3 separate regions of the Homo sapiens genome follow, and all the other regions are reported to be linked to region 1. Evidence: microRNA targets listed by miRTarBase, many of them from high-throughput screens and not tested one by one. Region 1 holds a microRNA gene; each other region holds the end of a gene's coding sequence.

The links. The annotated mature microRNA hsa-miR-409-5p reads AGGUUACCCGAGCAACUUUGCAU and lies in region 1 at 2,168-2,190, shown strand. An mRNA with a match to its seed (bases 2 to 7 or 8) in the 3' UTR can be bound and repressed. Matches are read on the target gene's strand: a 7mer-m8 pairs with bases 2 to 8, a 7mer-A1 pairs with bases 2 to 7 and ends in A, and an 8mer does both.
Region 2: miRTarBase lists RGL2 as a target of hsa-miR-409-5p. The part of its 3' UTR that is shown has no 7-base or 8-base seed match.
Region 3: the mRNA of STAG2 is a reported target of hsa-miR-409-5p. Seed matches in the 3' UTR shown: 8mer at 973-980.

What each region holds. Positions count from the first base shown.
Region 1 is chr14:101,063,147-101,066,401 of GRCh38, forward strand. MIR409 (microRNA 409) reads left to right here and starts at 2,154; the gene lies at 2,154-2,232. It overlaps MIR541 (microRNA 541), which reads left to right and starts at 1,349; the gene lies at 1,349-1,432. MIR412 (microRNA 412) reads left to right here and starts at 2,301; the gene lies at 2,301-2,391. MIR369 (microRNA 369) reads left to right here and starts at 2,452; the gene lies at 2,452-2,521. It also overlaps MIR410.
Region 2 is chr6:33,289,502-33,292,756 of GRCh38, reverse strand. It overlaps RGL2 (ral guanine nucleotide dissociation stimulator like 2), which reads left to right. Exons shown (of 18, transcript NM_004761.5): 17 at 213-327; 18 at 444-1,103. The coding sequence ends at 655. It overlaps PFDN6 (prefoldin subunit 6), which reads right to left and starts at 3,156. Exons shown (of 4, transcript NM_001185181.3): 1 at 2,837-3,156; 2 at 2,513-2,583; 3 at 2,307-2,431; 4 at 1,824-2,041. The coding sequence starts at 2,900. The coding sequence ends at 1,912. It overlaps MIR6834 (microRNA 6834), which reads right to left and starts at 2,512; the gene lies at 2,432-2,512.
Region 3 is chrX:124,100,292-124,103,546 of GRCh38, forward strand. STAG2 (STAG2 cohesin complex component) reads left to right here. Exons shown (of 35, transcript NM_001042750.2): 35 at 283-2,365. The coding sequence ends at 306. Among named protein-coding and RNA genes, the nearest start is that of STAG2, 140 kb to the left of the region's middle.

The DNA.
Region 1 (3,255 bases):
GAACCTAGGGTCAAAAAATGGGATACAGTCTCCCCCTTTATGCAGTTGATCTTTTCTTGCTGCCCCAAACCTTCCCGAGAGCTTCCCGGAAAGGTGTGCTGACTTCAGGCGTGACACACTGGTAAGGCGTCCTCCCGGGGATCTGGGTGCATGTTGTCCCCAGAGCATTCATACGTAAGTGACAGGCATCACCTGGTCTCCCTCCATCCCCACGGAGGGTTCTGGGTGAGACGCTGACTCCGGAGGGAAGCAGAAGTTCTACGGTCAGTGGGGTCTGGTCTTTCAGGACAGTTGCTTCTGTGAACTCAGAAAATCTGAGACAGCTCTTAGTTAATTTAGAAAGTTTATTTTGACAAGGTTGAGGATACACCCGTAACACAGCTTCAGGAAGTACTGTGGTCAAGGCACAGCTTGGCTTTATACATTTTAGGGAGACATGAGACATCATTCAGCACATGTAAGAAGTACATTGGTTTTGTCTGCAAAGGTGGGACAACTTGAAGCGAAGGCAGGAAGGAGGGAGCTTCCAGGTCACAGACAGGTGATACACAAATGATTACATTCTTTCGCGTTTCTCATGAGCCTTTCCAAAGGAGGCAAATCAGATACGCATCTGTCTCAGTGAGCAGAGGGATGACTTTGAATGGAATGAGAGGCAGGTTTATCCTGAGCAGCTTCCAGCTTGAGTTTTCCTTAGTGATTTTAGGGGCCCGAGATAACTTTCCTTTCACACTTCCAAGGCTATTGATGAACACACAGGCATCCAGGAACATTCTGGGGTTCAGTCCTTCCTCAGACTCTGCTGTTGATACCTTACATGGTTCCATGCTGGCCCCAAGGACGTGCCCTTCGTTGGTGCCGAATGTCATTTGGTCATAGAGGCTGAAAGTCATTCTGGAGTTGATGTTTCCAAGGTCAAAAACCTTGCTGGGGCTGTGGAAAGAGCTCGTTGTTTGCTGGCCTGCTTTGTTGGTGACCAGCATTGCACATGGCTTTCTTTTCAGATCAAACCCTACCTGGAGAATTTCCAGAAGCAACAGCACCCTCAGGAGGCGGCCTGCAGCCGGAGCCCTCTCCAGGGCAGGTGCCTGAGGGCCGCCCATGGGACAGGCCCGATTGTACCCACGGTGCATGTCATCTGTTCCACTCCTGCTGACTCCGGTGCGTTCCGGGACCACCTTGGGAGGTGATGCCTGCCCCAGGAAGGAGGCTCTGATGCAGGTCAGTGCCCATGGCTCCTGAAGGGAAGTCGTCTGTGACATCTTTTCTTTCTTTACAGCAGGCCTCGCATGGCTGGCCTCTTGCTCCACTTGTAGCAAGGCGCAGAGGGCTCTCTGAGCTCATGCCAACGTCAGGGAAAGGATTCTGCTGTCGGTCCCACTCCAAAGTTCACAGAATGGGTGGTGGGCACAGAATCTGGACTCTGCTTGTGGCATCCATCGTCTGGCCCGATGCTTGCTGGCTGCCCGCTCCAGGAGGCACCTTCTGGGTGTTCTCTGAGTCTGGGGAAGGTTGGGTTCTGAGGTCAGGGCTGCCCTGACCCTTGTGAAGAGAAGACATCTGTGACTCACCTGCTTTCTTCTGCTGCATTTATCCCCCCAGTCCCTTATTTTGAATGTCTCACTTGCTTTATGAGGCTAATCAGATGGTCAGCCAGCTGTTGATAACTGTGAAGTTACTCTTTGAGGGATCCTGGGGTGATGCCTCTGTGGGCTGGAGATGGTGCTGGTGAGACCGCAGGTCTGGGGTCAGCGTTGTGCCCCGTTGAGCTCCCGCCAAAGGAATCCTCTGCTGGGAGGGAGGCTCTGTGCTTGTGCAGGGGTCCCTACAGGGTCACCCCCTCTCAGGGTCTGGGAATGAAAAGCGGGTGCGAGCAGGGTTTCATTTTCATCTTTAGCAAGGTGCCCAAGGAAGGTTGCCGTCTTTTCAGTATAAGATCCTACCTGGGTCTTGCACTCAACTTCTGGGAAGAGTCTCTAGATTCATTCTGGAAGGGGTTGGAATCGTTGGACTTGGTGATTGGGAACGTCCTTGGAGAGTGTGAGGCTCTGGGCTCTGAATGCCCAGACCTTGTGCTGCCCTTGGGGGAGGGTCTTCTGCAAGCACAGCCGCCTGCAAGCATTCACCTTAGTCCGAGCATCTGAGCCTCTCCATGGTACTCGGGGAGAGGTTACCCGAGCAACTTTGCATCTGGACGACGAATGTTGCTCGGTGAACCCCTTTTCGGTATCAAATTCCACCAGGGAGGCCGTCTTGGAGGCTGGGGCACCTCGGGGAAGGACGCCGGCATCAGCACCATTCTGGGGTACGGGGATGGATGGTCGACCAGTTGGAAAGTAATTGTTTCTAATGTACTTCACCTGGTCCACTAGCCGTCCGTATCCGCTGCAGCCTGTGGGGCCTGCGGGCCGGGGAGCCGATCGCGCTTCAGCTCAGCGCCTTTCCTGGTACTTGAAGGGAGATCGACCGTGTTATATTCGCTTTATTGACTTCGAATAATACATGGTTGATCTTTTCTCAGTATCAAATCTCACCTTGGAGGACCCGTTGGAGATGAAGCCCTTTTGAGGGTAGGAGCAGGACGGGTGCTTTGGAGTCGCTGCCTCAGTGGGGCCTGGTCACCGAGAGTGGGCCGGGCAGGGGTCTCTTTCCTGTCTCTGTGTCTTCTCACCTTTGATGTCCCATCCGTCCTCAGGACTGCTTCCCGGGGGCAGCGCTGGCACCACGGGACGCGGCAGCCACGTTCTTGAGCCGATGGCACTCTGGGTACCTGAGAAGAGGTTGTCTGTGATGAGTTCGCTTTTATTAATGACGAATATAACACAGATGGCCTGTTTTCAGTACCGCTACCGCCCGGTGGTGTGCGGGCGCCACGCCTGAGGCGGGACTTTCCAGGGTACGTGAATGCATGGGCTGGTGTGACATTTGTCATCCTTTCCCCTGACCCCCGCCATTGAATCATTTTGGGAGAGCTTTCGGGGGGCCATGTGGACTTTGGGGAAGATGCTAGGGTTGTGCACTGTGGTGGGGGGCGGTCATGAAGCTGATGAGCAATGGTGACGGGGCTCAGTCTGTTTTTCATGGCCAGTGTCATCGAGGCAGAGGACACGGGGGAGCTAGTCCCGCTGGAAGGCATCCTGCTGGAAGGCCACCCACCCCTCGCCAGGATGTTGGGGGCGGCTGCATGCATTCCCTGCACCTGGGCTGCCTTCTGCTCATCTCAGTGCTGTGAGACCCTGGGTGGGAGCTGGTGCC
Region 2 (3,255 bases), not on the chromosome of region 1:
CAACAGCAGTTTCCCCACAGGGAAGCAGCTCTGTTTCACTGGGCACCATGTGGGCTGGCTTATGGGGTATAGGAAGCCACCATATTGGGTTTTCCTGTTCATTTTAAAGCCTTGGACACAAGTAACATTTTGTGGTTGGGTTCAGTGGCTGAGGGTAGAAGGATGGGAAATCATGGCTGATTGATTGCTCTTTTGGTCTCCTGTTCTGCCAGGTGACAAGCCAGGACAAGGCTCCAAGTGTCATCAGTCGTGTCCTTAAGAAAAACAATCGTGACTCTGCAGTGGCTTCAGAGTATGAGCTGGTACAGCTGCTACCAGGGGAGCGAGGTCAGAGGCCATGAGGGAAAGGCAGACTCGGGAGGAGAGTGGAGTACTTCCACATCTGGGCGGCTGTGGGGGGAACAACTGTGTGTGTGCTTTACATCCATCCCCTGAACCTTCAGAGCTGACTATCCCAGCCTCGGCTAATGTATTCTACGCCATGGATGGAGCTTCACACGATTTCCTCCTGCGGCAGCGGCGAAGGTCCTCTACTGCTACACCTGGCGTCACCAGTGGCCCGTCTGCCTCAGGAACTCCTCCGAGTGAGGGAGGAGGGGGCTCCTTTCCCAGGATCAAGGCCACAGGGAGGAAGATTGCACGGGCACTGTTCTGAGGAGGAAGCCCCGTTGGCTTACAGAAGTCATGGTGTTCATACCAGATGTGGGTAGCCATCCTGAATGGTGGCAATTATATCACATTGAGACAGAAATTCAGAAAGGGAGCCAGCCACCCTGGGGCAGTGAAGTGCCACTGGTTTACCAGACAGCTGAGAAATCCAGCCCTGTGGGAACTGGTGTCTTATAACCAAGTTGGATACCTGTGTATAGCTTCCCACCTTCCATGAGTGCAGCACACAGGTAGTGCTGGAAAAACGCATCAGTTTCTGATTCTTGGCCATATCCTAACATGCAAGGGCCAAGCAAAGGCTTCAAGGCTCTGAGCCCCAGGGCAGAGGGGAATGGCAAAATGTAGGTCCTCGCAGGAGCTCTTCTTCCCACTCTGGGGGTTTCTATCACTGTGACAACACTAAGATAATAAACCAAAACACTACCTGAATTCTACTCCCCTGTCCTTGCAGTACATATGAACTGGCTGCTATGAGTGGGGGTGGGGAATTGGCTGAAGGTAGATGCCATGGAACAGGAAGGGGCACAATGTTTTCTGTCCCCATGAACAGAGCAAAAAGTGAGGTATTGGTGAAAAAAGTTTCCTCAGAACAGTTTCTCTCCAGTAACCTCTCTACCACTGGTCCCTTGCTGCAAATGTGTATAAAACAATTTTAGGACAAGGAAATGGCAGAACAACTTTATGGACAACATATAAACTTGGGAGGACTTATAATACCATAAAGCATTACATGCTGGGATTTTAAGTCAGTTTAAAGCTACATTCAAGCAAATTCTAGGAAGACAGAGGCTGAAAAGTACTAATAGAGATGCCAGGGCTGTTGGCAAGGAGGGTAACCACATTTCATCCTGGGGCCTCAGGTTAGAGAACTGTGTATTCTTTTTCAATTAAACCGACATTCCTAGCAATATGGTATGTTGCAAATGCCCTTCCAAAAGAATCATGCCAACCAAGATGAGGGAGAGTTAAGGGTTGTATATACAGGCAAGAAGTAGGTTTGAAGACATTTAGGATTTCACTTTCAAGAAAGAACACTGTGCCACAAAGAGATTCCAAGTGCAAGAGTTTGAACCTGAGGGGGTAATACAGGTGGTGTGTGTTAAGGTGGAAGGGGCTGTGGGGATATGACAGAAGTGCCTGGTCAGGAAACAGAGCCAGGTGTTTTTACATTTTATTAGCTACAGTATAGATCCTAGAGCTGCCTCATTCCCTCCCCTCCCCTCCCCTCCCCCCACCATGGGGTCAGGCCTTGCCAGGAGCCCCTGCCTTTGCTGCCTGGGCCCGCTGGAACTCCTGCTGCAGCTGAGCAAGGGTCTCCCTCTGTTGCTCTGACTGCCGCTCAAGATCCCGAAGCTGGGATTCGTATCGCTTACTAAGGAGAGACAAGGGAGACAAGCAGAAAGGGAGAAATTAGTAGGACTCACTATGGAGAGTGCTAAACGCAAGAAAGAGATAGGTGGAAAACTTGAGATCCAGGGGAGGGAGAAGAAGGGGGGTTAAAAGGGAAGGAAAGGGTTGGAGGAACTGGAGGACTAGGGGCCACTATGGAGAGCTGTTCTGCAATGGTTCAACACCTCTACTCCAATGGTTCACTTGCATCACAGGGTGCAGCACACGGTGGTGGAATAAAAACTCACATTTCAGCTGTGATATAGTCCAGCCTCTTCCCTACTGTGGCCCGAGCCTCCCCCAGCTCCTGTTTGACTAGCACCGGACCCAGAAGTTTAAAGACCACGTTGGACCCATCCAGCAGGGCCAGTTCCTGATGGAGGGATGGGACATATGTGATCAGAACCATGGCTAGTACAGGTCCCTCCTCGCCCCACAAATCCCAGTCCCTCACCTCTTTCACGATATTATTTTCTGTTAGTTGTGCTTCAAGTTTCTGCCTCCCCGACATGGATTTACTTAAGTCTGGGGATGAGAGGAAAGGCAATTTAGAAACATCAAATGTGCCACCTATCCCCACAATCCTAGTCAGGTGGATATGGATCTGAGGAAGCAGAAAAGGATGGGGGCAGCGGGTGAGTGAACAGGGAAGAGTACTGAGACTGAGGCGGGGAAGTCTCTGCACGCGAGGGCCCAGATGGGGCAACAAACCTTATCTCGGTAATGGCTTTGGGTTGTAAGTGCATTGGGCGAGACCATACCGACCCTGTTCCCTTACCCTTCTGTAGCTGTTGATATTTCTCCACTTCTCCCTGTAGCTTCTTCTGGATCAGCTCCGCCATGGCGGGGATGAAAGCCTACTGGGTGCGAGACAAGGGCGCTGGGTCTCACTCTCTGGAAGGTACCTGAGCTCCCTTTTCTGATCTGGCCTGCGGAAATGATAGCACTCTTGAGAGGTAGCCCTGAGGGGCACCGCAACCTCCCCCCCGTCCCGGATATCGACTCCACCCTGTCCCCAGGAGATGGTGGGCGAAACGCAAGACCCCAAGCCTCTCAACCGAAATCCTAACCTACTCACGTTCTTCCTTCAGTAGTAATAAACCCGGAAGTAAACAAGGAATGCTGGGAAAAGACTGTGCCGGAAGTTTCTTTCTGACCCTTGATGGGAAGTGTAGTTCTGACATGTTTAGGGAGTGG
Region 3 (3,255 bases), not on the chromosome of region 1:
ATTATCTAGACATTAGTGGTACATATAAGCATAATTAATCCAAGGTTCCTACTTTAATTATATGTGAGGTAAGTAGCATCTTGATTAGTCCTGATGTTATTTCATTATATATCATGGTCAATTTAATTTTAGAATTATACATCTGAAGAGAGGGGAAGTTTTCAAAGTGGTTTTATTAGCATGTTATTTAACATAATAAAGTATTAATGTAATATTTATGGATATATTTAAAGAAATGAATGACTTTTAACGAGATTTTCTCCCCTCTCTCTCTCTCATTAGGTTCTTGGAGTGTCAATGTTTTAATACCAGTACACAATTAAATCTGTGGTGAAGTCATTTTCTAAGTGGAAGAGGAAATTTTAAAGTGTGGTAGATACAGTGAAATTCTGTACAGATTTTTCTCTAAGGAGAATATGACATGCTTATGCTTACCAAGATCAAGTGCATTGAGGGGCAGTTTTGTTTGCCTGAATAAACGTAAAGGACAAGTAAACAATTTGATGATAAGCTACAGTTTTTCTTAGAAAGTAAATATTTTATTTATGCGCTGTTAGTTGGCTTTTGAATCGATTATTTCATGCTTTTTTTTAAAAAAAAAAAAAAACAAAATAACAATCTGAAGAGGCATTTGGTACAGATATGAATTCTCTTACATTTATTTACTGGTTGTACTAAATAATGATGACCTCTGCTGGATTTCTGTTTACATCCAGAAAACAATGTTAAGGATGTATTTATTCCCCTACCCTGAAGAAAGTGTAGGATAGAATTGTTTTTAGCATTCTAAATTTAAATGCTTAAAACGTCAATCAACAAAACTTTGTTTTAAATATTGTAATTGTGGAGAAAAGTAAACTTATAAGCAGAACTTTTACAATTTTTTCATCTAAAAGTATTTTAAGATATTTTTAAAATCCAAGAGCTTCTCTATACTTTTCAGAAATATCCAGATGCAGTGAACTGCCAGAAGGTAACCAGTCTCAAACATGCTTATCCCATTATCAACCCTGAAAGTTTGCTTGTCCTTTAAGATAAAAATGTAATGTTGTGATATTCCTTCCAGTAATGCCACTGTATTTTGTCTCCAAATAAAAGAAGCTTATTGTAGTATGTTTGCAGAAAAATTCTAAACAAAAATTATACAGCTTATTAGAGTGTGGGAATAGGGATCTAAATTTTAAATAAAATTATATATATATATAAATTGGTGCTGATTTTATAATTGCGCAGTTTGTTTAGTTTTTTCTTACTTTTAAATTCCAACTTAAAATTATGAGGTTTCAGAAATATATTGAAAGTTTAACAATGTTTAAAAATAGAAAAGCATGAGTGTTCATGCTTTAAAATGATTTTTAAATTTGTATTTTATATTGTTTTATCTATCTGTCTTTGCAAGCAGTCTTCAGGTTAAAGATACTTCTAACAGGTTACAGTACATTTCCTCTGTATGTAAATTAGATGGGATAATAGAATTCATAACCCATAATATTCTTTGAAAGCTAAGCTTTAAACTTCATTTTATGTCCTTTCACAAATAAATTAGTTTAAAACAGAAAGTGGCTACTTGCCATTTTGACATCAACTCATTTTGCGAGGCTTAGGCAGCTAGACATCGTTTAAAACAAAATATTAACTTATATTACATGTGTATCTATCTATTGTCAGTCGTCTCTCAGTTCTTGAGGTATATTATTTTAATCATTCCATGCCTTAATATGCTTGCAATACAAGAATATCTTCAGATGGGTGAATACCAAAAGGCTTTCAGTTTTTAGTCAGAAATCAAGCATTGGGCTGTGGTAGCCAAAAACCATAGGTTAGCTAAAAAGATCATGATACAATTATTTTATTAAGTCATGGTTAATAACAAATGAATCCAGACTTGTCTAACAGATTTTCCATCAACAAATATTGTTATGTGCAAAAGTATTGCCTATGTTGTTTTACACACCACTGCATTAACTAGAACTGCTGAGAGGACTGTATATATGATTTTAAACCTAAGTTGATTTTTTTTCTCACTCTTGAAAGGAGTACTTCTTTGTGAAAGCAGTTCTTACAGCTTTGTTTTCAACCAGCTAAAAATGTTTTATATATTACTCTAACCTGTTGTCCTCCACATTCTATTGTCCTAATTGTACTGTTTTCTGATTTGTATTTATGTCTTGAGACAGTAACTTTTTGAATAAAAATAAACCTACAGTATGTTGTATGTTTTCTCTTGTACTCAAAGGGGGAGGGTGGCTATAAATGGTTTGCAAATTTATATCTATTATCACATCTTTTAATGTGTTTGGGGAATAATTTATAGAGAATACCATCAGTTTATATTTTTAATAAATCATATGTATTTACAATGAAACCAAATCCCTAATTGGATTATTACTTTAAAATAGGAACCTGTAACCATTATTGCTTTAATTTTCATCTGGTATGAGTTAAACACATTTACAAATGTTTACATTGTTTATACAGGGTACATTTGAGTGCCTACTGTGTGCTAGCATGTGTTAAGAGATCTCTCCTTCATAGATCCATTGGGGAAAACAAAATAATGAAACTTGTAATAAATGCCAGGAAGGAAACAAGCAGGATATGCTGAGGTAGAGAATGAGAGAGAGACAGTAAGAGAGAAACCTGCCTTAAATAAGGGGCTCATGGCATGGAGGTAAAACCATTTGAAAAAGAATTTACTAATTGAATTCTTATTGAAAACTCATCAAAGAAAGTGTTAAGATTTGCATTGTACTCTTTAAGAGATTCATGTCAGTGTAACACTAGCACATTGTTCATTTGGGCTAGTTTGTATATCAGAATTGTCTTCTGTCATTAGTGATTCAGAACTGAACATATAAAATGATAGCTAAAACAGCTGCGTGCTGTTTTAAGTAGTTTACATGTAATAACTCATTAAGCCTCATGACAAGAGTTGATAATGCTGTCATTCCCCCACCCTCTGCCACCAATTTTTTTTTTTTTTTTTAACAAATCAGAAGAAGGTGAGAATGAGGTACAAAGAAGTTTAAATACCTTAGACCAGGGGTACCAGAACGTGGCCTGTTAGGGACTGGGCCGCACAGCAGGAGGTGAGTGGCAGCCTAGTGAGCAAGCATTAACCACCTGAGCTTTCCTACTGTCAGAGCAGCCGTGGCATTAGATTCTCATAGGAGCGCGAACCCTAAAGTGAACTGCACGTGCAAAGGATCTAGGTTGAGCATTCCTTATGAGAATGCTTGATGATCTGAGGTGCAA